2 linked regions of the Homo sapiens genome follow. The protein of the gene in region 1 interacts with the protein of each later gene in a biochemical or structural test. Each region holds a gene or a part of one and is shown in the gene's direction. Other genes may lie near its edges. The genes, in order: PAK5 and DNPEP.

Evidence for each region.
Region 2: the proteins of PAK5 (region 1) and DNPEP form a complex in vitro, tested with the Homo sapiens proteins (one study listed by BioGRID).

The regions. Positions count from the first base shown.
Region 1 is NC_000020.11:9,559,495-9,575,402, reverse strand, and holds part of PAK5 (serine/threonine-protein kinase PAK 5), read left to right. Parts: intron 1-4,094; exon of another isoform or gene 4,095-4,524; intron 4,525-9,018; coding exon 9,019-9,510; intron 9,511-12,301; exon of another isoform or gene 12,302-12,378; coding exon 12,379-12,512; intron 12,513-15,908.
Region 2 is NC_000002.12:219,380,561-219,396,438, reverse strand, and holds the start of DNPEP (aspartyl aminopeptidase), read left to right. Parts: upstream 1-8,526; 5' UTR 8,527-8,644; coding exon 8,645-8,680; exon of another isoform or gene 8,681-8,863; intron 8,864-9,076; exon of another isoform or gene 9,077-9,161; intron 9,162-9,275; coding exon 9,276-9,369; intron 9,370-9,458; coding exon 9,459-9,547; intron 9,548-9,660; coding exon 9,661-9,774; intron 9,775-10,027; coding exon 10,028-10,153; intron 10,154-10,340; coding exon 10,341-10,471; intron 10,472-10,732; coding exon 10,733-10,808; intron 10,809-10,907; coding exon 10,908-11,015; intron 11,016-11,995; coding exon 11,996-12,073; intron 12,074-13,224; coding exon 13,225-13,308; intron 13,309-14,299; coding exon 14,300-14,460; intron 14,461-14,854; coding exon 14,855-14,894; intron 14,895-15,002; coding exon 15,003-15,104; intron 15,105-15,878.

The DNA.
Region 1 (15,908 bases):
TCTGTGCATCAGTTTCATCATCTCTAAAGTGTTTCAGTACCTACTTTGAACTGGGCATGGTGGCACACAACTGTAGCCCTAGCTACTGGGGAGGCCAAGACAATCCTTTGAGCCCAGGAGTTCAAGGTTGCAGTGAGTTATAATTACACTACTACACTCCAGCCTAGGCAACAGAGTGAGACCCTGTCTAAAAAAACAAAACAAAACAAAAAGGATGGGAAGAAAAGGATGGTGTGATTTCCCGGCACTTCCTTCTGGGGTCAACAGTTCAATGTGTTTTCACTGCTTAGCTATCACTTTGCTTTCCCTGGAAGGAAAAAGCACTTGAACCAGTGGGCCCAGTCTTCCCGCATCAATAATTTACTGATTCACTGTTCTTTGTGGTACTTGTCATGCCCAGATTCAACCATGGCTCCAACAACAGAACAGCAACTTCTTTTCTACTGAGGATCCCTGCAGAACTCGGTTCAGAGATCCATTCAGGGTTTAATGGGTTATGGAATGACAGTGCTAGTGAAAACTGATGGGCTGCACTAAAAATCTGAGGGGGAAAGAGAGAAGCACTTGATCACTTAATATAACAATGGATATATTTAGATTTGTTTTCTTTACCTACAGGGTCTTCATTAAGGCTCATAAAACATCCAAGGACTGACTGAGTGCACTATCTCTAACGTCTGTCCCTTCTGATGGAGACTTTAGGTGTCCTTTGCATATGAATGGACACTTCTTCCCATGAATGCTCTTGTGATTCAAAATAAATTGTATTTTGGTCATTATGAATGGGTTTTCCCATTACCAAATTAAAAACAAAATGAATTTAACCTGGCATTGTCCGTTCCTAGCTCTCTCAGAGGCCCTGACATATTTGAACAATATTCTGAGGCTGCAAACCAGTCCCCAAAGACGAAGAGTCCCTCCACATCACTGCAGGCGATGACGGATCGCAGGTCAGACCAATCTGCTCTGTCTCACTGCTCTTGAATAGAAGACACATTCTTTGAGTTTGAAGCAGCAACTGTGGGGGGTTAATTGGATATGCCAATTCAGAGGTGGAGGAAGAGCCTGGAATACCCGTATGCCTGACCCTGCACATCTCAGATTTATTCATTGCTTCATATAGCTAGGCTTTGCTAGTTTGTAGGGTCATGAGCCACTTGTCCAACTCTCAGTGTGCATTTGCAGGGCACAACCAGAGAGACAGACGAGTTATAGGGTTCAATGAGTCCCATTCCCCTAATTGCCAGTCTCTATCCTGTCCCTACAGAGAATGCAAGTTAATGATTCTCTCCAGAATTCTTACAAGCAGTCGTTTTCCCTTCCCAAAGCCAAGCCTGGTCCTGTTAAATTTTCCTTTGAGTCAAGTGAGGACAATTTAAGATGTCCTTTCCATGCTCAGATAATAGAGGTACTGTGATTCACTTTTATCTTGCATTTGATTTATGGAGAGTAAGCAGCACCCAGCCTGGCGTTTTCATTTTCGAGATGAGCAGTCTTTGTTTTATTGTGCTCTGAAAAGGTGTATTGGAGCATCACATTCAGGCACTGGAACCAGCTGCCGCCCACTCCCTGTAACTCGCCATCCTTCACGGAACATTCCGAGTCCTCATTCTGTGGGTACAGACCCACACTGTGGCTGTGTCCACACACCCCAGTCGAGCACGCTCCAGCCACGGCCCCCCTGCCCTCAGAACAGAAGGCCACAGTGCCAAATAGATGCTCCTGCAGTACTGTTTTTTCCTTCTCTTCTTTCTCTCACCCTCCCCTAACCAAGCTTTCTTCCCCCCAAGACTTGGCATAAAATGGTCAAATTATGTTCTACTGCAGAATTCAATTTCACAGTTCAGTTAGGTCCTTGATTACACTGCCAAATTCAGATTAATGTGCATTTAACTAACATGGATCAGGGGAATTCTGGCTGACAACCAGCTGTAATCGGAGCAATTGATAGCTGTGTGGAGTTTTATGCCCCGTCCACCCCAGCGTAGCTCTGGTGAAATTGATTGATTAAGTGAATTCATAGCTATAATTATTTATAATTTTGATACATCACAAGCCTGTGTCTGACCCTATCTTTAGAGATGTTGAGCTCATTGTAGAAAGGTAGTCCGGCTGAGTTGTTAACTGGGGATTATTTATTCCCTTATATAATATATTCTTTTTTGCTCTTTTTCTTTTTTGATCATGTTTGAATAGAGACATGACAAAGCACATTTTTTAAAGAATTAATTTATATGGTATACAAAAAAGTGTCAGGAAGCTAAAAAACAAGTGTATGTTATTAGCCATTTCAAAAAAAAAAAAGAGGAAATCACAATCATGACTGCTTGTTCATTTTGTCAATATTTCTAAAGATTCCTGTAGAGAGAATTCCTTCTTAAAATGTATCCAATTTTCAATGACAATTAATGACCTGGTAACCCTGCAGCTAAGCAGTTTAGCAGCCTGGGTGATAATTTGCAAGACAATTGACCTGGTCTTCTCTCATGACATCATGCCATATGGAAATCCCCCTGAAAACTTTGCAGACCATGGTCTCCTTTGTAAGGAGTTACTCGTTCACAAAATCACAGCACTGTTCTCTTTGGAGGGATGGGAAGAATGCCTTTGTTGTTTTTTCTCTTACATTGCAGTTTCCCACCCTTGCTCTGCACTCCGTGCCCTTGCTGTAAGGTCTGCAAGGGTAAACTATGTACATAAATCTTTTGGAAATGGTTTGGATCATGGGTGATGAGAGATATGCTGGATTTGCTTATTAAATATCATTCCTGTCACTAGTCCCATTCCACTGCATTGTGTTTTCACTAAATAATCAGATCCCAAATCCCTTTCACAATACCAAAGATAGGTCTGCTTTTATGAACTTCAAGCCTACTCATTTTTTTTCTAGAATGTATTTGTAAATCAGGTCATAGAAAAGATTGCACAGTTTAAGCTGGACTGCTTTGCACATCTTTCTCACATGCATGAACATGTGTGTGTAAAACAGTAGGAATGGACAAATTCATCATTTATGTTTTCTGCCTTCCAAATATAGGCTATCATGAGAAAGACAACTTAGAATGGAACACTTACATGACTATGAAAGTCCAAGAGCTATGTGAGGAGGTCTCATCGCAGAAGAAAGTTTGCACTTTCTTCCTTGAAAGAACTTACAGAAGAAAGCCTGAGTGATGTTGTAACAATGCAGAGTTCTGCTTTGACCAAAACAAAAAGGAAAATGATGAATGATGTACATAGATAATCAACTCGTTTTGCTGTGATGACTACTCTTTTTTTTAGCTCATTTCTCTAAGCCAAAACTGCTCAAAACAAACAAGCCAAAAAAAAAAAAAAAACCCTTAATTTGTCTTTCACCCCCTCTCCTAGACATTATCATCCATCATGTTCTGGTCCAATTCTTGCATTTTGCCCCAGGCTGCCCAAACATCTGGGCCCCCAGTGAAACACCCTGACCAGGCTTTATCTCTGTGGTTATCATCATTGCCCACTCTGCCCGCCCCTGTTAAGACCACATCCCCCCCCCCCATCATTCATGCCTATCTCTGTGAATTTTTCAAGGACCCAAGTACTGAAGCGACTCTGTCTGGATTTGAATCCCATTTCTCCCTTCTTTTAGCTTTGGGATCTTTGCATGACCTACTTAAACCCACTGTGCCTCAGTCTTCTTATCTATAAAATGGAGGAATTACAGAGCTTATTTAATTGTCCAGCTTGAGGTTTACGTGCAAGAATATACACAGTGTGCTTAGAACAGTCCCTGGCATGTAGAAAGCACTCAATAAGTATCAAACATCATTATTCTTATAAATCAATGAATGTTGGAAATGCCAAGGCAGGCAAGGGAGCCGGCCTGTGGGCCAGTGTGCTGGGCGCCCTCCCACTGGGAGTGAAGGACTGACCCCGGCAGAAGAACTAGGTTATGTCGTCCCCTTGGAAGTATGGAGCTATTTGCCCTGCATTGCTTGGGGGCAGTTTCGTCTCCTTGTGCCTCTATTTTATCAACCACAAAATGGGATTCAGTTGCCCCCTGCTTGATTCCCAGAATAAAAAGAACAAGACCTGTTGAAAGTGTGTGGGCTGGTGATACGCACCATCATGGAACCCCGCATGTGGGTTAAGATCCAACAGAAGGCAATGGTTCAGCACCTTGGTGGCCCCAAATGGGGTCACCCATGCATTTCTCCTTCACAGAGTCAGCTATTTGTCCTCTGAGGGAAGACTACATGTCCCCTCACTTGAAGTGAACAGTTCATTCTCTGATGAGTATGCCTTGAGTTTCATTCAAAACATTGTCTCTTGTGATACTAGTTGTTCCTCAACCATTGCTTAAGAGTCTGTACCTCTTACCAGCAGCCGTGAAAGACAACAGCACCTTTTTGTCTCATGGCCTATTTTGAAGATGGTTAGCTTTCAGCAAAGAGCTCTGCATTCCATCTTTGCCTGGAAATTGTCCCCTTGGTGCAGGCAGGCTTCTTCTTTATGTCATATGCCAGCTGTTAAGGGTGGATTCTGATAATGCTGCTGACAGGTGATAAGGAAGAAAAGTGGCCTAAATTAGTGCAAAGCGGTGTTTGTGATTCCTGCAGGATGCAGCTTTCCCATTTTTAATATATCTTCAGAGATCAGTTATACATGCTTGTGGGGAATGAATTCAATTTCGTTGAAAGTACAGGAGCCAGTCCTCCAAGGAAGACACAGGGTGATAATGGCAAGTGATGGCTCCCAGGACACACTTTCAGAAATAAAAGCCAAAACACTATTTCCCTTCACACCCTGGCCTTGCTGACTAGCCTAGACTTGACTAATCTGGAGCTTATTGAAGGAAGAATCCAGTTGTTTAACTTACACTGACACTTCTCTCTCCCCATTCCATCGTAGTTTAACTTACACTGACACTTCTCTCTCCCCATTCCATCATACACACACACTCACACACACACGTTTTCCTTGTGTAGCACAAATACAGAGGCTTTGAAAAGAATCAGCTTGGTTTTGAATATTTTAACTATACATTGTTCAATATATTAATGTTAACTACATCTTGTCTTATTGCTTTGAGTATTAATATATAGGAATATATATACCACAGGGGCATTGTATGTCTTCAATAAATGCTAGCTAGTTTGATAATATTGCAGTTACTATTTATTTTATTTTGCATTCTCATTACTGTGCTAAGCATTTTATATAATAATAACACCAAGTAGAACTTACTGGCCAGTCATTGTTTGAATACTTTGATATGTATTTGATCCTTTAGAGTTCAGTGACCAAAGGAAGTAAGTATTATTATTGTTCCATTTTACGGATAAGGAAACAGACTCACAGAGGCTGATTTGACTAAAATTATCAGAGTCAGAAGGAAACTAAGACTCAGAGAGGTTGACTTGACTAAAATTATCAGTCAGAATTCATTCCTATGCCCGTCAAAAGCATGTGTTCTCTCTGCAACCAGGGCAGGAGGGCAGCTTAGCAGCTACCCTGGTTCCTGCTGGTTGATGCCAAGGCTGTCTGAGTGGTGAATTCACCTAGTAAAGTGTAGTGTTTTTGAAGCTGGAAGGGCTGCATTGCTGAATGTTCAGCAGGCCAGGCACTGTCATTGTAGAACCAATGGGCAGTGTTGGGGGACTGAGAATGGTGCTATGGTAGCAATTTTAAAGAGCCCACTGTGTGCAGTTATTGCTCCATGATGTGATAGAATGACTACCTTCTTATGCATCGTGGTGGGGCAGGAGCTTGAAACACCTGCTTGCCTCTACCATGTCACCAGATCCAATGAGCAACATGCCCCATCCCACTTCTCAGTGGCATTTGACAGGATTCATTAGCCCTTCCTTCTTGAAATACTTTCCTCCCTTGGCTCCAGGACACCTTGCTTCCTTAGTTTCCTTTCTACAGCACTTGTCACTCCTTCTCTGCTCCCTTTTGCAAGATCCCTCTGCTCTTTCTGGTATCTAGACGTTGGGGTCCTCAGACCATCTCTTACACATTCAGTATCATGGCTTTTAATATGAACTAAGCACCGATGACTCTCAGATTCATGTCTTTAGCTTTAACTCTTCCCTGGACTTGGGGCATGCCTAAGTCTCCTAAGTGACACCTCCACATGGATGTCTAATCACTCTCCCAAACTTTACATGGCTAAAAGAACTCTTAATTTTCCACCATGTATTAGCTATCAATATTGCTGCATAACAAATTATCCCAAAACTTCATGGCTTAAAACAAACTGCCTCATGAAGCAAAAAATAGTGCTGTTCAACTAATTTCCCCTAAACTTTAAATAACAAACATTTACTATTTCACAGTTTCTGTAGGTCACAAATTGAGAGGGCTTAGCTGATTGATTGGTTCTGTCTTGGAATCTCTCATGAGGTTGCAGTCAAGGTTTCAAACAGGAACACAGTCATCTGAAGGATCAACTGGACCTGGAGGATCCACCTCCAGAATGGCTCACATGGCTGTTTGCCAGAAGGCCTCAATTTCTAGCTAGCTCTTAGCAGGAGTCCTCAGTTTCTTGCTGCATGGACCTCTCTATTTTATTATTATTATTATTTTTATTATTTCTGAGACAAGGTTTCACTCTGTCATCCAGGCTGGAGTGCAGTGGTGCAATCATAGCTCACTGCAGCCTTGAGCTCCTGGGCTCAAGTGATCCTTCAGCTTTAGCCTCCCAAAGCTCTGGCATTACAGGCATGAGCCACTGCACCCAACCCTTCCAAAGGATTCTTGAGTGTCCTCATGACATGGCAGCTGGTGAAAGCCAAAATAAATGATGTAAGAAAGCAAAGGAACTTGCCATCATCTCTGCCTTTTTCTTTGATCACACAGATTGATCCCAATACAGTGTAGAAGGGGACTACATAGGAATATGAATGTCAGGAGGCACAGGTCATTGAGAGCAATTTGGAAGCTGATTATCACACCCCACAAGCCCTGTTCCTGCCCCTGGATTCCTCATCTCATTAAATGGCCTGTTGCTTAGGCCAAAATCCTGATAGCCATCTTTGATTCCTGTCTTTCAAGATCTCACCCAATCCATCAGCAAATCCTGTCAGCTCCATCTTCAAATCCTGCCCTAGATTTCACCATTTCTCACCCCATCTACAATAACCACCCTAATCTCAGCCCACATTAACTGTGATAAGCTGCTGGCATCCCTGTTTCCACTCTTGCCACCAAAGTCTCTCCTCCAGCAGCCAGAGAGTCAGACTGTGTCATTCCTGTCTGCTTAGCAACCCCCAGTGCTTCCCACCTCACTCGGAGCAAAAGCCAACGTCTTTGCCAAGGTCTTCATGATCTGTCCCCCGGCAGCTTCTCGGCCCATCTTCCTTAGTGGACACACTCCACTATAGCTGAGCGTCTGCTCTTCCTCACAAACTAAGCCTGGATCTGCCTCAGAATCCTGCATGTGCCACTCCCACTGCCCAAACCACCCCTCCTAGGAAAGGGATCTTGCTTTTTCCCTCACTCAGCCAGGCTTCTGCTCCAACGGAACCCCCTCAGAGAGTCCTTCTGTGACTACCCTATCCAAGATGGCATCTCATTACTTTCAACCCCCTCACTCTGCTTTATTTTTCTTAATATTATTCATTACTACTGAAACACACACTGTATATTTACTGGTTTTCTTTATTATTATCTATTTCCTTCTCTGGAGCATAAACCCCAGGAGGGCAGAGATATCATTCATTTTGACTGTTGGTGGACCCTCCCCCTCACACCTAAAACAGTGCATAGCACATCATAGTTGCTCAAATATTAATTTTTGAAATAAATGAATGAATGTGCTGCATGGGAACAATCAATTCATCTAGAATAGTGCCATCCAATAGCCCTTTCTGCAATGAGGAAAATGTTTTATATGTGTACTGTGTGATGTGGTAACTACTGAGTTCTTAAAATGTGACTAGTGTGATTGAGAAACTGAATTTTTAATTTTTAATCTATTTTTGTTTATTTTAAATAGGCACGTGTAGCTTGTAGCTACTATATTAGAATAGATCTAGGTCCTTGGGGTGGATGGTAGGGGAGTGGGATAAGTTAATGCCATTCCATTTACACCCAGTAGAGTGATAGAGACTTTCTGGGGCACTGCATTAAGAAAGAGCCTCAAGTCCAATCAACAGATCTTTTCTGAGTACCTTCTATGTATCCAGCACTGTGTTGTCATCGAGATCTTCCAAAACAGAGTGCATTGATGGATTAGCACTTTCTGCCCTGGGCTAGGAGCATACCACATGACAAGATGTGGTATCTTTACCATCCTGGCCTCAGCAATTCCAGGAGTGGCCAGAGCTCCTTCCTGATTCTTTCCAGGAAGTGACTGCTGGACCTACATATTGTATCATATACCAGTAATCCCCTCACTGGCTTCCCCATTCTCCTCCAATAAATCCCCTCATCCCACTCTTCCAAGTCAGAGTGGATGTTCTTTGCTGGGATCTCTTTCGGGTCTAGCATCATTTTCATTTCACACATACCCCTGCAAAGTCTGATCACTCTCAATTATATTTGTACTTATTTGGTGAGAACATTGCACATGTTCACCCTGTGGTTCACACCACTTAGCACAGGGAGACGTATTTTCCCCTGTACCTACATCTGCTGTGTTATACCTGTGTTATACATATATGTCCATACCACCCTCTAGTATGTGAATTCAGAAGCATGGGAAAAGGCCTCCTACCCCTGAAATGTCTCCCAAAAATGCTAGCTGAAAACTAATGTCCTTTAATGAGGGATGGGGTTTTTCATTACTGAACAAGAAAATAGGGCTTAACAAGCAAGTACACCTTAGATATGACACACGTGAAGTAACCTCCTGCTGTGGTGCACGTGCACCACAGAAGGCCCTTCCCTAGGTGTGGCCGGTCCTGTTGGTGCCCCAGCCAGATCCTCTCATCTCCCACTGGTGATCCTCATTCTGCCAGCTGTCAGTCAGCTCACTCACCACTCGGCTGTGGCATTCAGATCCAGCATGTGAATATTCTCTATCCATGTCTGTCTTCCCAGGTGGATTACGATCGAGCACAGATGGTCCTCAGCCCTCCACTGTCAGGGTCTGACACCTACCCCAGGGGCCCTGCCAAACTACCTCAAAGTCAAAGCAAATCGGGCTATTCCTCAAGCAGTCACCAGTACCCGTCTGGGTACCACAAAGCCACCTTGTACCATCACCCCTCCCTGCAGAGCAGTTCGCAGTACATCTCCACGGCTTCCTACCTGAGCTCCCTCAGCCTCTCATCCAGCACCTACCCGCCGCCCAGCTGGGGCTCCTCCTCCGACCAGCAGCCCTCCAGGGTGTCCCATGAACAGTTTCGGGCGGCCCTGCAGCTGGTGGTCAGCCCAGGAGACCCCAGGGAATACTTGGCCAACTTTATCAAAATCGGGGAAGGCTCAACCGGCATCGTATGCATCGCCACCGAGAAACACACAGGGAAACAAGTTGCAGTGAAGAAAATGGACCTCCGGAAGCAACAGAGACGAGAACTGCTTTTCAATGAGGTAAAGAGTGTGTTTGGGTCATCCTTTCTCTCCTTTGTAACATTTATTTCCCATTTCAAAAGTTATACACATGTACATTTTAGGACATTAGAAAAGCACTGAAAATATAAAGACAAAAATAGCGTCCCCTGTAATATTTCCTTCTAGTCTTTTTTCTATGCACATATATGGCTGTTACATCTATAAAGTACTTCATGTGTATCAGCCACTGTACTAAGCATTAATCTAGCTTGATCCTCACAACAACTCTGTGAGATAGAAAGATGTTATCACCATTTTTACAAGGAAACCTGGACTCAGGTTAAGAGATCCGGCTCAGGGTCAAGCAGGTTGACTGTAGAGCTAGGATCTGAATCTCTGTCTAGCAGATTCTAACTCTTATGCTACACTGTATCTACATGAGTATGTATATATTTTACACTACTATGATATCATAATATACCCTCCATAAACAATTTTTAAAACAGTAGACCAGGGTCAGTTTACCAATGGACTATCACCCTTTAGGAACTTTAAAATATTTTTCCTAACTATAAAAATAATGAATTCTTCCTGTAGAATACATGGAAAGTAAAGAAAATGTCCCACAGATATCCCAGTCAAGGAATAGCCTACATTAATATTTCAGTGTTTCCTTTCTATATTTTTCTGTTTACAAATTTCTTTTGTTTGAGATAATTATATATGTAGTTTGGTAACTCTCTAAATTTCAATTAATATTAACATGAATACTAATAAAATTAATATCATAAAATATATTGACCTGTATTACTTATATTTATTAATGTAAAGTAGATTTAATGACCATTTTAATGGCCTTATAATCTTCTATCATATACATGTATCAAATTTATTAAACCAGTCACTGATTTAATAAATTTGAGGTAACTTTAGATGTATGTGGTTCTGTGACTTTCTAAATTTCACCTAATGTTAACATTAATACTAATAAAATTAATATTAAATAAAATATATCAGCATACATTACTTATTTTTATTAATGTAAAATAAAATATATTAACGTATTCTATTAGCTACATGTCAAAACACAATTTTAATGGCTTAATAATCTTTTATCGTATACATGTATCATATTTAAAACCAGTTTCTGATTTATACTGTTTCCAATTTGTCACTTTTATTATTTTGCAGTGAGTGTTGTTACACATAAGTCTTTGGCTTCATATCTGATAATTTATTAGATTCCTAGAAGTAGGATGAACAGATCAAATGATATGTACTTTTTTTAGATAAATGATATACAGTGTTAATTTCTAGAAAGTTTGTACCAATCTAGACCCTCACCAATAGTATTGTTTCACCTTCACTAGCGTCATTGAGACTGTCATGTTATCTCTGTTCATCTGCTAGATATGAATAAACCTTACTGTTTTCATTAGCACTTTTATTACTAGTGTAGCTAAATTGAATTTTATGTGGTTATAGGCCATTTTTATTTCTTCACTAAATCATATGTTCTGTACACAGTTTTCAATTAGGGTGCTAGCATTTGTTTTATTGATGTGTAGGAGCTATTGATATGTTAAGGAATTAACCCTTCTCTGTATATTTGTTGTACTTTAATGTTTACCTTCCACTTTCTCATTTACCTTTTAAACTTATCACTTAAGAGCTCTAAAATAGGTGGGGAAACATGAGTAATTATGTTAGAAAACACATAAAGTATTTTGGAGTAATATTCTTTTAGTAATTTTATGAGAGCATTGAGGGGAAAGATAAGTTTTTGTGGATGAGAGATCTAAGTCCTAAAATATCAAGTCAGGGTATCAGTGTTAGATGTTAGTCTCCAGGAAAGCATGTACAATCCACATCTTCTAACTCCCAGAACAATCTACGGCTGCTTGACCTCTTTGTCTTTCTATTGTAAGGACTCCCATTCTCTGAGAAGTAAGAAGGTGTTTGGTCCATAAACAGGCACTGTACAAATGCACTCAGCTGCAATTTTGAACTCTGTTTATCATGGAGGCTCATATGAAGCCCCCAGTGGCCTCCACACATCTCCAGCTCCCACGGGTGCTTATTTCTTACACACGCTCCAAATCTCACAGAGAGTTCCAGGTGACTGGGCTTCAGCATCTTTCCAGTCCACCATTCCTGGTTTCTGGAATTTATTTTCCAAACCACAATGCCAGAACACACAGAGCAATATGATGTAGATAAATAATTCTGTAGTTTATTATTTAACACTAGCTCTGAAAACTCGAGTGGAAACAGCCACAGGGCAGCAATTTCTGGAAGCTCTCTCCAGCAAGCAGGCTCCTTAGCCTTTTTAATTTCTATGCCATACTTATTTTTATCTTCAATATATATTCTTTCAATTCAGCCCAAATATCTCTGAAGTTCAACCCATACCTACTTCCAAGGAGAAGTTAAGTTGGTCTTGTGTGGCTCCAGTTCTAATAATAGATAGTTTACTTCATTCACTTGTGGGACTCATTCCCTCAATTACTACGAGTTGGTGACCCTTTGCTAGGATAACCAGCAGAGGACTGTGAACAGTGCATTCTAAAGGAGACCCTTAGAGATATCTGATCATATCCCCAAAGATGGTCAACCAAACTCCCTCTTGTGAATGCAAATCTTGCTTTGGTTCTACTTGTTTTCATTTTCTCTCTGTGTCTCTCCAATGTCAGAGTGACCTGCCATTTTCTCTCAAATTTGCTACCTTGATTCCTTTTATTTCTACTAGCTACCCTTGATGCTTTTTGTCTGTAATAGATTTTCTGAATAAACTTCCCCACAATCAGTACCTCTCAATCAGTTTACTTACAATTGTAGTTGTGGCCACAAGAGAACAAAAAGCAACTTCATCTTCACAAGTCAAAAGTATATTTCCCGTTTCCCCAGGTCGTGATCATGCGGGATTACCACCATGACAATGTGGTTGACATGTACAGCAGCTACCTTGTCGGCGATGAGCTCTGGGTGGTCATGGAGTTTCTAGAAGGTGGTGCCTTGACAGACATTGTGACTCACACCAGGTAGGCTTCTTTATTATCCAGAGAATTCGAGGTGCTTCTTATTCTTCTCCAGGATAAAGCCGCAGTGACTATGAACTCTTCATAAATTGCAGGCACTTTGGAGTCAGGGAATATGACTACCCTTTCCCCTACATTCCCCAGAGGGCCCATTATGCTCTCAGGCATGTATAGTTCATTCATTTGGTGAATGTTCTCCCTGCCCTCAGAAGGACATTAATACCCATTGATTTAAAATAAGCAACCTGCTAAGAATGAAGCTTCAGTGACAAATAATAGAATGTCCTGTCGCCTATATAGATTTCTAAAGCTGAATTTCATTCTCCTGAGTTACTCTACCATTGCTGCATGCTAAGACACCAAGGATACCAGGGGAAGGAAGGGACAGGGAGAGGATCACTTGAAGTTTTGTATCAAAATAATGAATCTGGGTGGCACAGAGAAATTCTGCAATTCTGTTTTAAAATATGCTTGCAAGTAACGATGGTTAATTACCAGCCTATTGCTTCAGCTATTTGCCTCCCTGATGTGCCAGTTCCAGCCATTTCATTAAGTATTTATTGAGCACCTTTTATGTGCCAGGCTGTTTTGTAAGTGGTAGAGATGCAGAAGATACAAATGAATGTGGCTCAGATATATCCCCTCAGGGACATCACTGATGAGAAATACATTATAATACCTGTGCAGAATTAAGAAGATATATATATGTAGCATAGAAGAATACCTAAATGTCTCTCTCAGAAAGAGTCAATAAATATTTCTATTTAATATAAGGTGACATCTGAGATGGATTTTGAGAGCGAATAGGAGTTCACTAAGAAGGCAAGTAGGAGGAAAAGGGCATTGAAGGCAGAGGAAAGAATATGTGCTAGGACAGTGCCTCTTCAATTTCAGTGTCCACATAAATCACTGTGGATCTTATCAAAATGCATATCCTGACTCAATAGAGAGGGTGTAAGATTCTGCATTTACGGCAAACTTTCAGGCAATGGCAATGCTGCTGGTTCATGGACCATACTTGGAGAAGCAAGGTTCTGTGGAATAGACATACAAAATAGCATGTTACATTTGGGAAACTTTAACTTTGGTTTTGATGGTAAATAAAATGCCAAAAAGTTAAGGAAGGATTGTCATGAGGAAGAGGTATTGAGTGTTAGCTGATGTTATTGAAATGGTACCTGAATCAAAAGTGGATCCAGGTACATAATTGGTGGAAAACAAGGTAACAAGAAAGTACTGGGAAACCCTGTGAAGTATAAAACATGCTGTTTTTTCTCCACTGAAATGAGATGTTACGTGGCTCTACAGTTCTCGGTCTGGAGTAGGCTATCTCAAAATAAAGCTTTGTGAGTGAAGACATTTATCACCAACAATTCAGCTGGCAGACTCTTGATGTTGTAGCAATAAGACATGCCCAACAAAAAAACACATAAGATCATCTTAATTGGTAGAAACAAATATACTGGAAAGATCTAAGCATAAGGCAAATGTGATATACATTTTTTGCTTTTCACATATAAAGCAAAAAATAAAAATATATTCAGGGGAGAAACCTTTTTGTTGCCTTCCAGAGCTTCATACAGCCACTCAGGTCTCCAGCTCTACCTTTGTCAAGGTTCCTTTCCATTCTTATTTTGTATCCATGGAAACCACTCAAGACAGTCTGTCCCTAAAATCCATTTTCTTTTCTAATTTTCTCATCCAGGATTGTCAACTGATTTCCCTTTTAAAGACCCAGTAACTCCAGAGGCAAAACAAAATTGTGTGTCAAGGAACACCATGAATACTTGGTATTCGAAATCTTAAACTCAGAATTCAGAGAGCTTCCTTTAATAGATATTGAATAACTGCTTTACTGAATGATTTATTGATCGGTTGATAAAACATCTAACCCCTTGCAACTCCAAGTGCTGTCTGAGGACCTGGGAGCTTGTTAGAAATGCAGAATCTCAGGTACTACCCCAGACCAACTAAATGAGAATCCATGCTGTACCCAAATACTCAGGTATTTCTTATACATACTGAAGTGTTAGCATTAACTTAACATCTTGTTACGTCAGATCCTTCTAATTTCCAGGAAACAGAGGGTTATAGAAGGGAAGGGAAAGTGCCAAGCACCATCAAGCTCTTCATATGTTAATCATGTAACCATCACATATTTCTATGAGGCAGATGCTGATGTACCTGTCTGCCAGGTGATGAAGCTACAATTCAAACAGGAAAAATATTATTGGCCAGGCATGGTGGCTTATGCCTGTAATCTCAATACTTTGGGAGACCAAGGCAGGAGGATCACGTGAGCACAGGAGTTCGAGACCGGCCTGGGCAACTTAGCGAGACCCTGTCTCTATTAAAAAAATTTAAAAATTAGCTGAGTGTGGTGGCATGTCCCTGTAGTCCTAGCTACTCGAGAGGCTAAGACAGGAGGATCACTTGAGCCCAGAAGTTCAAGGCTGCAGTGAGCTCTGATTGCGCCGTTACACTCCAGCCTGGGCAACAGAGCAAGACTCTATCTCAAAATTTTAAAAGGTATCCTTCTTAAGACCACACATTTAATAACTGATACAGCCAGGATTTGAATTTGAGGTTACTCTAGAACTGAAGGGTTTTTTATTCCATGCCAAGCTTTTTTCCTATAGGAAAGAAGTAGAAGAAGAAATGCACCAACGATTCTCCAGCTGGCCATGCTAATTTCAAAGACACTGGATTAGGAAGTATTTGTCACGTGTTCCAGTCAAATAGGATCTTTCTGTTAGTGACTAGCGGTTAGATTCAAGTAATTTTTGATATAGTCGACCTGTAAAGAATCTTTATACCTCTTTCAGATAACTCAAATTTCACGGAATTCAAGAGAAAATAATTTTATTAAAGATGGTGGTTCTTGGTTCTGAATTAATTTGAAGGTATATGTGAGCTTGTCCCTGCTGCATATACTGTAAACCTCTGAGGAATGTGTTTTTCCACATGTGAAAATGGTCGTGTGAAAACCATTCAGGATAATGACCAACATACCACAAAACCCAGAACACAGAAGTTGTAGGCTTCCTCTGTTTCAGGCAAAAACATTTCTTGTCACCTGCCTTTGTATGAGACTGGTGCTGTGGAATCCTCTTTTGCTTTCTTTTTTTTTTTGAAACAGAGCCTCACTCTGTCGCCTAGCTGGAATGCAGAGGCGCTATCTCCGCTCACTGCAACCTCTGCCTCCCAGGTTCAAGCAATTCTCGTGTTTCAACCTCCTGAGTAGCTGGAATTACGAGCGCCGGCCACCATGCCCAGCTAATTTTTTGTATATTTAGTAGAGACAGGGTTTCACCATGTTGGCCAGGCTGGTCTCGAACTCCTGACCTCAGGCAATCCTCCCACCTTGGCCTCCCAAAGGCCAAATCCTCCTTGAGGGGA
Region 2 (15,878 bases), on another chromosome or scaffold:
TTTTTGTATTTTTAGTAGAGATGGGGCTTCACCATGTTGGTAAGGCTGGTCTCGAACTCCTGACCTCAAGTGATCCGCCTGCCTTGGCCTCCCAAAGTGCTGGGATTAGAGGTGTAAGCCACCCACGCCCAGCCCTTGTTTATCTTAAATTCAAATTAAACTGGGCATTCTGTATTTCATTTGGCAACCCTAACTTTATCATGGTTAGAGTCATAACCACCATTATAATCAAGACATAGAACTATCCATCACCATCAAGATATTCCTGAGCTACTCCTTCATAGTCACACATCCCTCCCCAAATCCTCCCTAGCCCTGAGCAACCACTAATCTGTTCTCCATCTCTATAATTTTGTCATTTTTTTCACTCAGCATAAGGCACCTGAGATCCATCCACAGCGTTGCATTTAGCAACCACTCGTTCCTTTTTATCGCTGAGTATTATCCCATGAGGGCCCTTTTTCACAAAGAACAATTATTTTTCAAAATTTCTTTAATTCAGTAAGTGTTTATTGTATATCCACTACCTGCCAGGCACTGAGGATTGCAGCAGCAAAGTAAAATTGATTACATGTCACAGGCCAGCAGGTTACTTCCAGTTGACAGAGACTTCTTCCTGTGGATCCTAAGACAGGAGATGACACTGGCGCTAGGAGAGGAGGATTGGCCTCCCTAAGCACTTCCCTCTGGAGATGCTAGGGAAGGCTTTGTGAAGGAGCTTGGGAGGCAGGGTTTGCTGATGGATCTGACATGGGGTGCAAGAGAAAGAGATGCACCAAGGCTAACGCCAAGAGTTATGACCTGAAACTGGAAGGACAAAGTTGCCATTTACTGAATGTATGGCAGATGCACCTGACAGCAATAACTGAAGCACACCCTGAGAATGACCCTGAATGGCAGATATACTTGATGTGTGTTTGGAGTTCTGAGCTAAGAAATCCTGGAGTGGGCAACCTAGAGATCCTCATCTATGAGGAACCTCTGAGCCCCCTTCCCATCCTGTGGAACAAGGGCCATACAGGGGATCAAGGCGCTTTGTTTTGGGTTAAATGAAGGTTGCCAGGTAGAGGTTGTTAGGGAGCAGGTGTTGAGTGAAAATGCGTGCTTTCTGCAGGTGACAGTGGTTCTACTGTCCAGCTCGCCACCACTGGACCATCTTGTATGTAAGTTCTCCTCAATAGACCCCACGTCGGCCGGGCCCAGTGGCTCACGCCTGTGATCCCAGCACTTCGGGAGGCTGAGGAGGGCAGATTGCTTGAGGTCAGGAGTTCGAGACCAGCCTGGCCAACATAGTGAAACCCTGTCTCTACTAAAAATACAAAATTAGCTGGGCATGGTGGTGCATGTCTGTAATCCTCAGGAGGCTGAGGCAGGAGAATCACTTGAACACAGGAGGTGGAGGTTGCAGTGAACCGAGATCGCACCACTGCACTCCAGCCTGGGCAACAGAGTGAGACTCCCTCTCAAAAAAAAAAAAACCTTGTCTTGTTTGCTGGCTCTGGGTCTCTTCTTTGGCCTCTTGAACCTGGGGCCTTCCTTATTGGAGTGGACAGGGGTTCAGCACAACACTGAGATGGGAAGAATGTGGATGGAATAGGTTTGGGGAACAAGGAGTTCAGATTAAGACATATTACACTGGAGATTCCTATTAGGCACACATATGGAGACTGTGCAAAAACAATTGGATATATGAGAATATATATAGTTCAGAAGAGATATCTGGGCTAGGGATACATAAATTTGACAATTGTCAGGGTATGGATACTATTTAAAGTCATGAGATTGGACATTAGCAAGGGAGTGAGGGTAGAGAGATTTCTAAGCACTGAGCCCTGAGGCCTTCCATTTAAAGATGGGAGATGAGGCCAGGCACCGTGGCTCATGCCTGTAATCCCAGCAGTTTGGGAGCCCCAGGTAAGAGTATCGCTTGAGGTCAAAGTTGGAGGCCAGCCTGGCCAACAAAGTGAGACCTCATCTCTATTTTAAAAACATGAATATAATAAAATAATAACAACATTAAAGATGGGAGATGAGGAGGAGCCAGAAGAGACCCAAAGGAGTGGTGGTGAGGGTAGTAAGTGTCTGGAAGGCCAAGTGAAGAGAGTGTTCCCAGGAGAGCAAACGGCTATGTCAAATAGGACCCATGGGTCAACGACAATGGGGACTGAAAATCGACCATTGGGTTCAGCATTGTGGAGGTTGCTTTTGACCTTGACAAGAAAAGTTGCGGTGGAATGACAGCGGTAAAACCTCATTCTAGAGGATTTACAAGAGAATGGGAGGAGAGGAATCGGGAAAACATAAGACTAGATAGTTCTTTTTAAAAGAGATTTACATAAAGAGGAGAAGGAAAATGAGGCCACTGCTGGAGGGAGACTGGGGGTTAAGGGAGGATTATTTTTTCTTGGGAGAAATTATAGCACATGTATATGCTAATCAGCTTGACCCGCCAGAACTGTGGAGATTGATAATGCAGGAGAAAGGGAAGAAGAGTTGATATGGTGCCCTTACGTAAGCAAGAGGGGTGGAATCTTGTGCACAAGTGGAGAGGGTGGCCTTGGATAGGAGCACAGATGGTTCACCCACAGAAATGAGGACAGCAGAATATGGAGCTCAGATCCTGGTAGGAGCCTAGGCGTGGCAGCTTAAAACTTGCGGAAATTCTCTTTTGAAGGCTTCTATTTTCACAGTAAAATGGGAACCATGGTCCTCGGCTGAGAGTGGGGATGGAGGAAGACACTGGATGAAACTCTCCTCCAGGAAAGCAAAGAAGCAAATGGCCCAGGAGATGCAATAGGACCTCTGGGCAGTACAAAGAACACACTTAGGTTAGTGGTTGAGTTTAAAGCAAGCTTGTCCAGCTGGGTGTGGTGGCTCACACCTGTAATCCCAGCACTTTGGGAGGCCAAGGCAGATGGATCACTTGAGGTCAGGAGGTCGAGACCAGCCTGGCCAACATGGTGAAACCCTGTCTCTACTAAAAATACAGAAATTAGCCAGGCATGGTGGCTCATGCTTGTAATCACAGCTACTTGAGAGGCTGAGGCAGAAGAATCGCTTGAACCCAGGAGGCAGAGGTTGTGGTGAACTGAGATCATGCCACTGCACTCCAGCCTGGGCAACAGAGCAAGACTCTGTCTCAAAAAAACTAAAAAAAAAAGTAAGCTTGTCCAACCCACCACCTATGGACCACATGCAGCCCAGGACAGCTTTGAATGCAGCCCAACACATATTTGTAAACTTTCTTAAAACATTATGAGATTTTTTTGAAAGGTTTTTAGCTCATCAGTTATTGTTAGGGTTCGTGTATTTTATTTGTGGCCCAAGACTATTCTACTTCTTCCAATGTGGCCCAGGGAAGCCAAAAGACCGGACACCACTGGTTTAAAGTGAGACCAGGCAGCGCGGCTTGGATGTTTCTCCAGCCACACAGGTTGGAGCAGGGGAGGAGCTGGTTGCAGTCAGGGTTGGGGTTTTGCCAGGCAAGTCCGCAAATCTAGAGCAGGAACTTGAAGGTGTGTGCGAGGGAGTGAGCACAACAGTGGAATGTATGGCTCATCCTAGGTAGGAGAGTCATGAAGACAGGAGTGAGGAATAGGGAAAGGTAGGATCAATAGTTTGTAGTTCTAGGCTGGACGCGGTGGTTCACACGTGTAATCCCAGCACTTTGGGAGGCCAAGGTGGGTGGATCACCTGAGGTCAGGAGTTCAAGACCAGCCTGGCCAACATGGTGAAACCCTGTCTCTACTAAAAATACAAAAAATGAGCCAGGCATGGTGATGCGTGCTTGTAATCCCAGCTACTCAGGAGGCTGAGGCAGGAGAATCTCTGGAACCCAGGAAATGAAGGTTGCAGTAAGCCAAAATAGCGCCACTGCACTCCAGCCTGGACAACAGAGTGAGACTCCATCTCAAAAAAAAAAATTTAACTGGGTGTGGTAGAGGGCACCTATAATCCCAGCTACATGGGAGGCTGAGGCAGGAGAATCACTTGAACCCAGGAGGCGGAGATTGCAGTGAGCTGAGATGGTTGCCACTGCCCTCTAGCTTGGGCAACAGAGCGAGACTCCGTCTCAATAAAAAAAAAAAAAAAAGACATATGTATCTTATAAACTCACACTGAAGTGTATGTAACTGACTTCTATGTTCACGCAAAAGTATTTGCACTTTAATATGTGTTAAACCAAAAAGATGAATGAATAATGGTAGCATTGTAAACATCAGCCGAGATCTTCCAGGGAAGATTTTCTCAGAAGGCCAAGGGCAAGAACGATTCTCAGAAACTTTTTCTTTCTTGATCCCTAGTCATCCCTTGACTTTGCCACCTGAACTCCAAATCCATCACCATTCCCTTACCCAGAGGTGACCATTATCCTTCCAAACCTGTTTCTATCCATTTACATATGTATTTATATAACATCTAGAAATATAAATTTAGCTCATTGTGTGAGTTTTATCTAAAGGCCCTCACCTTACATTCTAGAAATTGCTTTTTTTTTTCACTCAACAGTATATTTGGAATTCTTTTCTGTAACAATTCCTAAAGACTGACCTTTTTTTTTTTTTTATGAACTGCTACACAGCACTTTAAAATACTGTGTCTCAAGCATTCAAATCATCTAGGAATCTTGTTAACATGCAGATGCTGATTCTATAACTCTAGGGTAAGCCCTGAGGTTCTGCATTTCTAAAAAGCTCCCAGATGTTATTGACATTGCTGGTCAACAGATCACACATTTAGTAGCAAAGATGTACAGTACGGGTGGAATAGTGTGCTGGGGCCAACTTGGACAAGCTCATGAGAACTGATTGTCAAATTTCCAGGAATTTGGTGAGCTTGTTGTTAAACACAGCAATCATTAAAAAAAACTAAATTATATACACTTACAATTAAATAAATTATATTACAGATAATGAAAACCAAAAATCCATCACCTTTCCAAACATTTTACTGCCTTCTTAAATCTATGCTGTTGATGTTATTTCTATCCATTGTGTCTGCATGGTGGAAATCTACATAATGGCATGCTTCCGCACAGCTCTTCCCAACTCCCTTCAGTGACATCATCTCGACAGCTTGAAATCGGCCACGGGGAACATTTACACCACAGAAATTTGGGTATAAAGGTCTGTGCAAACATACCCCCAAAGTTCAGGGAAGCTGAAAAGCCGACGAAAGAGGCTGACATATACAGTCTCTCAGAAAGAAACATTTCATAGGGACTTATGAATAGAGGCCATAGTTTCAGAGATGAAATGGTGGATTACCCTGCAAACCCAGGGCTTACATACCATAGGGAAACAATGTGTCAAACAATTGAAGTTGACCCCTCAGGCAAAGTCATGAATGCTATGTGAATCTGTCTAAGCGCAGGATTTATGGTAATAGTAGGTAAAGTAGAAAACTTAGAGTCATTCCTGGAACAGGTTGTTGAAAAGTCAACATGGCAGATTAGCTTCCCAGATGGAGTTGCTTTAGCCTCCAGAAAATGCTTGCATTACCCCAAGCCTTCTCCAACACTTGATATTACCCATCTTTTCCATTTTTGTTAATCTGCTCAATAAAAAGAAAAAGTATCTCATTTTTATTATTTATTAATTTTTTTTTTGAGTTGGAGTCTCGCACTTGTTGCCTGGGCTGGAGTGCAATGGCACGATCTCGGCTCACTGCAACCTCTGCCTCCCGGGTTCAAGCAGTTCTCCTGCCTCAGTCTCCTGAGTAGCTGGGATTACAAGTGCACACCACCATGTCCAGCTAATTTTTTGTATTTTTAGCCAGGCTAGTCTCAAACTCCTGACCTCGTGATCCACCCGCCTTTGCCTCCCAAAGTGCTGGGATTACAGGCATGAGCCACCACGCCCAACTGTTATCTCATTTTTAACTTGCATTTTCCTGTTTAAAGTGAGATTAGGTGTCTCATATGTTCATGACTAGAAATTTAACAATATTTCTTGCTCTTGTAAATATAGCCCTTTTACTTTTTTCTTTTTTACCCAAACCAAAAATGGTCAATAAGAACCTTTTTACTTTTATATTTTCTAGGTGATTATTGTACAAGAAAGTCAGTGTTTTTTAAATTAGGCTACCCTTCCTACCAGTTCTAATAATAGCTTGATCGTTTATTTTCTTGGGGATTCTAGATAATCATATAATCTATAAATAATGACCAATTTTACTTTTGCACATATAGAATTGTTAATTTTGTTTTGTGGTACTGGCTCTGACTACAGCTCCACATTGTCTAGCAGCAGTAATAGCTCATCAATGTCTCACTTCTGATTTGAATAGGAACACTTCTGTATTTCCCTCCCAAAATGCTGGGATGACAGGCGTGAGCCACCACTCCCGGCTCACTTTCTAAGTTATGCATTTTGGTGATGTTTGAATCTCTTACTCAAGCATGTACTCTTTTCTGTGATCAGAAAGAACATTAAAGGTGGTTCCTTATTCAGGTTGTCTCCTTCCCTTATACATTGTAGCCTTGTTTCGGCCCTTTCACTGTCCTCCTTGAATGTGTCCCCTCCCCAGGAGGTAGAGGACAAGAATGCTCTCTCCATGTCCTGCTCAGCATTGAGCTTTATACATAATTTTATTTATTTATTTATTGAGACAGAATCTCACTCTGTCGCCCAGGCTGGAGTGCAGTGGCACGATCTCAGCTCACTGCAACCTCCACCTCCCGGGTTCAAGCGATTCTCTTGCCTCAGCCTCCCAAGTAGCTGCTGGGATTACAGGCACGTGCCACTACACCCGGCTAATTTTTGTATTTTTTGTAGAGACGGGGTTTCACCATGTTGGTCAGACTGGTCACGAACTCCTGACCTCAAGTGATCTACCCGCCTCGGCCTCCCAAAGTGCTGGGATTACAGGCGTGAGCCACTGCGCCAGGCCCATAATGGTATTTCAACAAACGGTTAGGGAATGCCATGAATTTAAGCCAGCACCTAGTGGGTGAATTCTTGAAAACTCCCCTGCCATATCTACTAGTTTGAAGTGAGGGCTGCAGGACCTTTCCAGCCTCTCCCCATCCCACCCTGTCACTCCCCACCCCAGGTATATAAACGGCAGGTTGCTCCATAAACCTGTGATCTCTGGAATTTTGTTTGAACCCCTGGTAGCTGGGCCCTGTTTTGGATCTAGAGGCCACCAAGAGTCCTGATCAGTTCCTGCAGCTAGGAAGGTGCATGGGGTTTAAACGTGCTACTCACTACTCCTGACATGGGAATACTGGAACTGCCAATAATGTGGAATTTGTTTTTCTGTTGTTTTTAACAAATGGAAAGGGCACAGATATCAGAGTCAAATCCCAGATCCACCCAAACAGCTATGTGATCTTGGGCAAGTCAACTTCTGTGTCCCTTGTGGACCTCCCGTGTAACATAACACTTACCAAAGCGCATAGAAAAAGGTCCAGAAAAGATCTGAGAGAAGGCTGTAGGGTTGTTCCAGGCCTCTGCAATCAAACTGATGGAGTTCAAACCCCACCTGTGCCGTTTATTACCTCGACGGATCACTAGTCTCCGTATCTCAGCTTTCTCTGTTCATGCATAAACTGGGGACAGTAAGAGTACATAGTTGATGGGGCAGTTGTGAAGATTAAACGAGGTAACAGGCCAATCTTTATCATAAAGCTAAAGCTCACCGTGAGCGCCCCATGGACATTAGCCTTATTGCTTTTATTGTCACAAAGGTGGCTGTGGCGAGAGACAGCACTTTGTACCGTACCCGTCGGACCCGGTGAGCTGGAGGGGCGAGCTTTTTATTGGCCTCGAGGCCCGGGGCACGGGGAGGCGGGCCGTCCGCGGCTGTCCTAGCACCTCCGCGGCAGCAGAGGGCCCTGGCGGCGGCTGCGGGTCGCGCGGCGTGGGTGACGGGGGTGCAGGGCGGGGCCTAACGAGCAGCCCCCGCAGGGGCGGAGACGAGGGCGGGCCGGAGGCGGAGGCGCGGCCTGGAGAGGGATGGGGCGGAAGCGGGGCGGGCGGTGCAGCCTAGCGAGGGGCGGGGCGGACGAGGAAGCGTGACGAGCGGCGGGGCGGGTGGAGCAGCCTGGCGAGGAGCGGGGCGGGGTGGGCGGCACGGCCTGACAAGGGGCGGGGAGCGCAAGGAGGCCTGACGAAGGGCGGGGCGGAGCAAGGGCGGGGGCAGGGCGAGTAGTGGGGTACAGCGAGGGCCGGAGCGGATGGGGGAAACCTGGTGAGGGGCGGGACAAAGCGGGGAGGGCGGTGCAGCCTGGCGAGAGGCGGGGCGGACGAGGAAGCTTGACGAGGGGCGGGGCGGGCGGTGCAGCCCTGCGAGGGGCAGGGCGGGCGGTGCTTCCTGGCGAGGGGCGGGGCGGGGCGGGCGGTGCGGCCAAGCTAGGGGCGGGGCAAGGGCGGGGCAAGGCGGGTGGTGGTGCCCAGCGAGGGGCGGAGCGGACAGGGTAAGCCCGCCGAGGGGCGGGGCTGACCGAGGTGGGCGGGGCGGATGCCGAGGGGCGGGGAGAGGTGGGCGGGGAGGCCAAACATGGGGCGGGGCGGCGCGGCCGGGGAAGCGTGATGAAGGCCTACGAGTGCGGCGCGGCCTGAAGGGGCACGCGGGGGACCTGCAAAGCTAGTGAGGGGCGGGGCAGGCGGCGCGGTGGGGGCGGGCCGAGCCCGGAGGCCAGATGAGCGGACACAGCCCCACGCGCGGGGCCATGCAGGTAAGTGGCTCCCGACGGCCCCACTTGAATTTCGATCCCAGACCGGGTCCGGCGCCCTCCGGGGCCCAAGCTTAGCGCGGTGCTGCAGTGGGGCCGCCTGACCCAAAGCGAAACCGAAAGCCCCGCGGAGGGTGACCTGACGACTTTCCCGGGACTGGAAGGGGGAGTCCTGCGAGAGACTAGGTGGGTGCGAGAGAGGAGTCAGGGTGCTCCTTGGGGTACAGGGCTTTGGCTCCGGGCTGGGTACGCGCACGTGATGCAGGCCGCCTCAGAGTATGGGGCCCGCTTGGGATCCCGGAGTTTGGGAGCAGAACAGGATTTCCTAGCTGGGCAGGGACATGGGGGCGGGACTTAGGGAGTCGGGCTAAAGTTCGGATTAAGGGGCGGGCCTGGCTCATGATCCTGGGCCGGCGGGCTGAAGCTTTCAACGGAGTTTCAGCCCTGGGTTTGGGTCTCTCGGTGGGGACGGGCGGAAGCAGAGGTCTGTGCCTTAGAGTGGTCACTTCTGGGGGTGGGGATGGGAGAATCCTCGGAACCTGGGTGAAAGGTCAGGGGTCCCAGACCTTGTAAAAGTCTGAGCATCCCCCTCCCCTAGGTGGCCATGAACGGTAAGGCCCGCAAAGAGGCGGTGCAGACTGCGGCTAAGGAACTCCTCAAGTTCGTGAACCGGAGTCCCTCTCCTTTCCATGGTAAGCGGTGGCCAGGGCAAGGGAGGAGGGTGGAGGCTGATGCGCCCTTCACCAGCTTCCATCGCTGTGAGAGGGTGCTTTTCCCACAGCTGTGGCTGAATGCCGCAACCGCCTTCTCCAGGCTGGCTTCAGTGAACTCAAGGAGACTGAGAAATGGAATATTAAGCCCGAGAGCAAGGTACTGGGGGTGGGGTGGGGGTGGAAAGGCAGGTCCCTAGGCTGGTCTCCAAGCCCTGTGTGCCAGCTGAGTAATGCAACTCACACCCCTGTCTTTCCTCCCCTTCTCCTCAGTACTTCATGACCAGGAACTCCTCCACCATCATAGCTTTTGCTGTAGGGGGCCAGTACGTTCCTGGCAATGGCTTCAGCCTCATCGGGGCCCACACGGACAGCCCCTGCCTCCGGGTAAGGAACTCGGACGGTGTTGGGGTGGGAGGAGATGTCAGAGGGAGTACAGGGCAAAAGAGAACTAGGAGGTACAAACTGGGGCCTCTATCCCCTGGAGTAAGGGAGAAGGTAAACTTGTTGGCCCCTTCCTTCACACCTTGAGCCTTTCATGTGACACTAATATTCGCTGTCTGTTACTTATGAGTAGCCAAAGTCTCATCTCCACATATCGTCATGAAGCCTTCTCTGACTTCTCCATCTTTACACTCAGGTGAAACGTCGGTCTCGCCGCAGCCAGGTGGGCTTCCAGCAAGTCGGTGTGGAGACCTATGGTGGTGGGATCTGGAGCACCTGGTTTGACCGTGACCTGACTCTGGCTGGACGCGTCATTGTCAAGGTGGGAACCGAGGTTGGGGATGGCGGAGCCTCCTCAGAAGACTGACTGCCACACTCCTCAGGGTACCCGTGGGGAAGAGGGGTGGGGGCAGTCTGGTCAGAGGACCACCCTGCTTAGTCTGAGTGAAGTAAAGACTGACCACTGGGGTAGGAGGCACCCTGGGCTGACCTGGCCTGGCTGGCTGCAGTGCCCTACCTCAGGTCGGCTGGAGCAGCAGCTGGTGCACGTGGAGCGGCCCATTCTTCGCATCCCACACCTGGCCATCCATCTGCAGCGAAATATCAACGAGAACTTTGGGCCCAACACAGAGATGCATCTGTGAGACTGGGGCAGGGCTGCGGTGGCTGGGAGGGATGGAGAATGGTACCAGGTGATTATTACCTAATGGTAGCCATTAGGTCACATTTTACTCTTGGGACCCAGTTAATTTCTAAGGGTCCTCACAGCCTTGTGATTTGGGGAGTGGGCTGGGAATTGAAGGGCAGAGGCAGTTGCCCATCAGGAGGCACCTGAACTTATGGATGCCGCACTCAGCTGTGCCCTCCTCGCAATCCCCCCACAACCCACGTCTCCCCACAGAGTCCCCATTCTTGCCACAGCCATCCAGGAGGAGCTGGAGAAGGGGACTCCTGAGCCAGGGCCTCTCAATGCTGTGGTAAGAGAGTCTCCTGATCATGGGGAGGGCGGCAGAGTCCCCTGAGAAGTGGGGAGGAGAGGAGGAATGGACTCTTCCCAGCATCTTTCTGCTCTTCAGGATGAGCGGCACCATTCGGTCCTCATGTCCCTGCTCTGTGCCCATCTGGGGCTGAGCCCCAAGGACATAGTGGAGATGGAGCTCTGCCTTGCAGACACCCAGCCTGCGGTGAGGACTGGCTGTAGGAACCTGTGGGTGAAGGGCCTCCAGGATCCTGGCCACCCCTAGCCCGTCCTGCTGAAGCACCCATCACCTCCACCAAGCCCTCAGTAACTCTCATCCCCGTTTTTCCCAGTAGACACATCCCCCACTGCTTCTAGGGCGGTGGTTCTCAAAAAGACAAGTTCCCTACCCCAGACCTGCCCACTAGGACTATCTGGGAATTGGCCCTTTTTACAGATTCCCAAAGAGTTTCTTCTACAGGTGGGCCCTGTCTGCTTTGACCCACACTGACACTGAACTGCTTAGGGAAAGAGGCCTGGATGTGGCCATCTGTTCTCTGTCTCCCGGTTGCTGATGGTCAGAGATTGCTAAATCTTTGGATGCTGTGTCCTGCTTGAACACGTACTAAGTTTCTGTTTTTTGGCTGGTTTCCTCTGTTTACTTCTTTGGCCTTTTTGATGACAATTCAGCCCTTCCTTTTCTTGACCCACAGGAAGAGGTCAAGAGCTATTGGCCTCCACCCTTTTGTTCCTCAGCACCAACCCAGCCCCCTTCTCCAATCTCTGCTTGGTCCTGCCTAGCAAGGAATCCCAGCACTTTGGGAGGCTGAGGCGGGGGGAATCACATGAGGTCAGGAGTTCGAGACTAGCCTGACCACCATGGTGAAACCCTGTCTCTAATAAAAATACAAAAATTAGCTGGGCCTGGTGGTGCATGCCTGTAATCCCAGCTACTCAGGAGGCTGAGGCACGAGAATCCTTTGAACCCGGGAGGCGGAAGTTGCAGTGAGCCGAGATCGAGCCATTGCACTTCAGACTGGGCGACAAGAGCGAACCTTCATCTCAAAAAAAAGAAAAAACAAAATAGTGCCCTAAGCCAGGGGTCAGGGAGAGGTTGCGCAAGAAACCAAGGAGACCCTTGGGAGCAAAAGAAAGGTGAGTGGGGGTGGAGGGTTGAAGGTCGGGCTGACTGTCTTACCTCTCTAGGTCTTGGGTGGTGCCTATGATGAGTTCATCTTTGCTCCTCGGCTGGACAATCTGCACAGCTGCTTCTGTGCCCTGCAGGTGAGGAGCCGGGGCGCCCCAGGCAGCACATAACCACCAGCAGAGGTGGTATGTTTGGGGTCGGGGGAGCTGCCTAAAGCCCCAGCAGGTTGTGAGAGAGGGCCATTGTCTACCCGCTCAGTCTGCTGGTGCTGGATGGACCAGGAGGGGGCCCTAAATGTTGCAGCCTCAGCATCGCCACCTTTGGTCTCTGCCCTTGCACTATCAGGGTGTTGAGGCAAGAAGAAGGAGGAGAAGTTGTTTCAGGCACCATGGTCTCTTGTCCTAGCCTTGCTCCTGCTGCTTTTCCTGAAGTTAACAACCTCTGCCTCAGGGAAAGGCTTTATCATCCACAAGGCAGTATCATCCACCTCCTTCTGCTTCCTACGCCACTCCCCAGGCTTAAGACCCCAGCCTTCTCCCTGTTTCTTGGGATCTCAGTCAGGTAGCCTCTCTTCCTAGTCACCTTGATATTCCCCACCTTCTCTCCACCCTAGTCAGTTCCCTTTCTTTCTCTCCTCTTGCCCTTGATCTCCCTCTGCCTTTTTCTGCCTTTCCTTCCCTGTAATCCTGTGGCTGGAGATAGGCTTTGGGCTGTAATTGAGACCAGAGCTGGACCTGGGACCTGCATCTACTTCTGCAGGCAACCAGCCAGTCATGTCACCTTGATGGAGTCTGTCACCTCTTTGAACCTCAGTCTTTTCCCTGAGGCCAATCAGTTTATGTGATGTGTGTAGCCTTTTGGCTTTCCAGGACTCTCAGCTCTTCCTCTCTGTCCTCCACATCTTCTACTGCCTTTTGCATGGGAAGGTAGAGAACAACACCCAAAGGATGGTGTCTCCTGTCCCAGTTGAAAAGGTTTCTACCTAGCTATTGATCTGGCCAAAAAAAAAAAGAAAGAAAGAAAAAAAGAGAAAAAAAAGGTCCTCACCACACCTTAAAGGTTTCTACCTATGTAGCTATTTATTTGGCAAGAAAAAAAAGGTCCCCACCACACCCTCTGCCAGGCAGTGCCCTAATTGATAAAAGTCATGGCCATGGAAGGCAGACAGGGGAATGTGCACACCCAAGGTGCTGGTGGATGGGGGAGCGTGCACACCCAAGGTGCTGGTGGGCTGAGTTCCAGCAGAAGCAGGTTGGAGATGATGCTCTCATTTCCTTCCCTGAACCAGGCCTTGATAGATTCCTGTGCAGGCCCTGGCTCCCTGGCCACAGAGCCTCACGTGCGCATGGTCACACTCTATGACAACGAAGAGGTACGTGGAGGGTTCTGGGGAGGGTCACCTCTGCGGAGTCTTCCACAGCCAACTTGTTGTGCCAGGCATCCACCGTGAGCCAGGGCTCTTCTGGGGGCCCCAAGACAGGGGAGATGCTGCCTGTGCCTCCTTAGCACTTGGTGTCTCCTCTGACTCAACATAGATCTGCTTATTCGAGGGTGACCGTCTCTCCTGTATCTCTCTTTGTGCCACATGGTGAGCTTCTTCCTTTAGGACAGGGACTCTACCCAGCCCATCCTCGTAGCCCCAGGGCTCAGCACAGAGTAGGTCCTCATGATGCCTGCGTGTGTGAGGCTGCAGTCTCAGCTGCATAACAGAGCTTGAACAGCTAGTGCTCTCTCATGTAACAACCCAGGTCAGAGTTAGCAGTTTAGGAGGGGTCCCTGCCGTCCTGAACACATGACTTCCATTTCAGGATTCAGGGTGGCCGTTCCAGCTCTGGCCATCATGTCTACACTGAGTTAGTAGGAAGGGAAGAGAGGGCAAAGGGGCAGTAGACACCCCCTGGCTTTAAGGGCATGATCCAGAAGTGACATTCATCACTGCTTACATTCCACAGAACTTAGCTGCAGGGGAGCCTGGAAATGTCATCTCTAGCTGGGTAGTTAAGTGCTTAGCTACAACTTGGGTGTTCTAAAAGATATCATGGACAGTTAGCAGTCTCTGTCATACACATAAAAGAAAATTGACCAGTGTGGTGGGGCACCTGTGCTGAGCCCCAGATGTGAGGGTCACGAGAGGAGGAAGGGGAGCAGTGCAGGAAACCCACCAGTACTGTTAAGAATGTGAGTTAGTTTGGTCTCAGCCCACTGTCTGGTGTTCAGTGACGACCCCAGGTTAGGGGTGTTGCTAAGAACACCCAGTGACTCAGTGGGGTTTTGGGCCAGTTGGGCAATGGGCCCCTCTCACTGGCTTCCAAGATCAGGCCCCTAAGCCCAGATTCCCAGAGTCAGGACTCTACTGTCGCCAGGTGGGGTCTGAGAGTGCACAGGGAGCACAGTCACTGCTGACAGAGCTGGTGCTGCGGCGGATCTCAGCCTCGTGCCAGCACCCGACAGCCTTCGAGGAAGCCATACCCAAGTCCTTCATGATCAGCGCAGACATGGCCCATGCTGTGCATCCCAACTACCTGTGAGTCTCTAGTGCCAGTCACACAGTCTTCACATAGCTGGAGACCCAAGCATAACCTGCCTTGAGGCTCTGCCTTGGCCCCAGCCTCTTCCTTTCTCCCTTCTTCATTCTGCCGGGAGGTTCACGGGCACTTCCTTTTCACTACTGCGAGACCAACTTGGTCAAAGTCATGCAATGCCTAACCCAGGTGTGTGGAATACACCTTTGTCTACAAACTTGTTTCCATCTATTGCTAGAGGCTGCCCGGAACCCTGTGTGTGGAATGACTCTGAAGTCCCACTGGGCTGGGCGGGAAAGAGTGGTGATCTATTAGTGATGTCTGCCATGGGAGGGTGGTGAGTGTCGACAGGCCTGCTCCTGTTTGCTATGTCTGGCCCTTATCTGTCTCTTACAGGGACAAGCATGAGGAGAACCACCGGCCTTTATTCCACAAGGTGAGACGTGCCATTTCTCCCTAGGGACTTGGAGGTCTGGCTGTTCCGAGCGCCGACTCATTCCCTTTGGGCCTGTCATTACCTCTGCCTCACCTTGACTCTCCCCAGGGCCCCGTGATCAAGGTGAACAGCAAGCAACGCTATGCTTCAAACGCGGTGTCAGAGGCCCTGATCCGAGAGGTGGCCAACAAAGTCAAGGTCCCCCTGCAGGTGAGGGTGGGCCCTGCCTGGGAAGGTGTGATGGAGGGAGCTTGGTGGGGGCACAAACAGATGGGCCCCCCATGAACAGGGAACCTGGTAGATGGCCTTGAGTGGAGGGGGGTCCCAGTAGAGTGAGAAAAGCAGGGATTTTGGATACAGCTGGATTCCATGCTGGCTCTGCTGCAGTGCTAGCTGTGTGACCTTGGACTAGTCTCCTAACCTTTCTGAGTCTCAGTTTCCACATCTGTAGAATAGGGGTGATAGTGATGCCTACTTTGCTGGATTTCTATGAAGACTGAAGGTACAGTGTGCTCCTGGCACATGGTAGGCCTGTCTTTCCCTGCAGCACCCCCACTTCCCCTGTGTCTCCTACACACCCTGGGGGCTTCCACAGGGAAAGTTCAGGGCTGGGGAGTATGGAACTCCAACTACTCATTTTCTCTCTTGCCTGAGAAATTAGACATCTAGTCCTTTCTCCTCAGTGTGTGTGTGTGTGTGTGTACATATATATGTTGTATACATGTATGTATATAACACATGACAGTATTGTGTATACACATATACACACATATATACTGTCATGCATTGCTTAACAACAGGGATACATTCTGGGAAATGGCATCATTAGGCAATTTTGTCATTGTGTGAGCATCATGGAGTATATGTACACAAACCTAGACGGACAGCCTGCTGCACACCTAGGTTGTGTGGTGTAGCCCATTGCTCCTAGGCTACAAACCTGTACGGCTTCTTACTGTGCTGAAAACTGTAGGTAACTGTAAC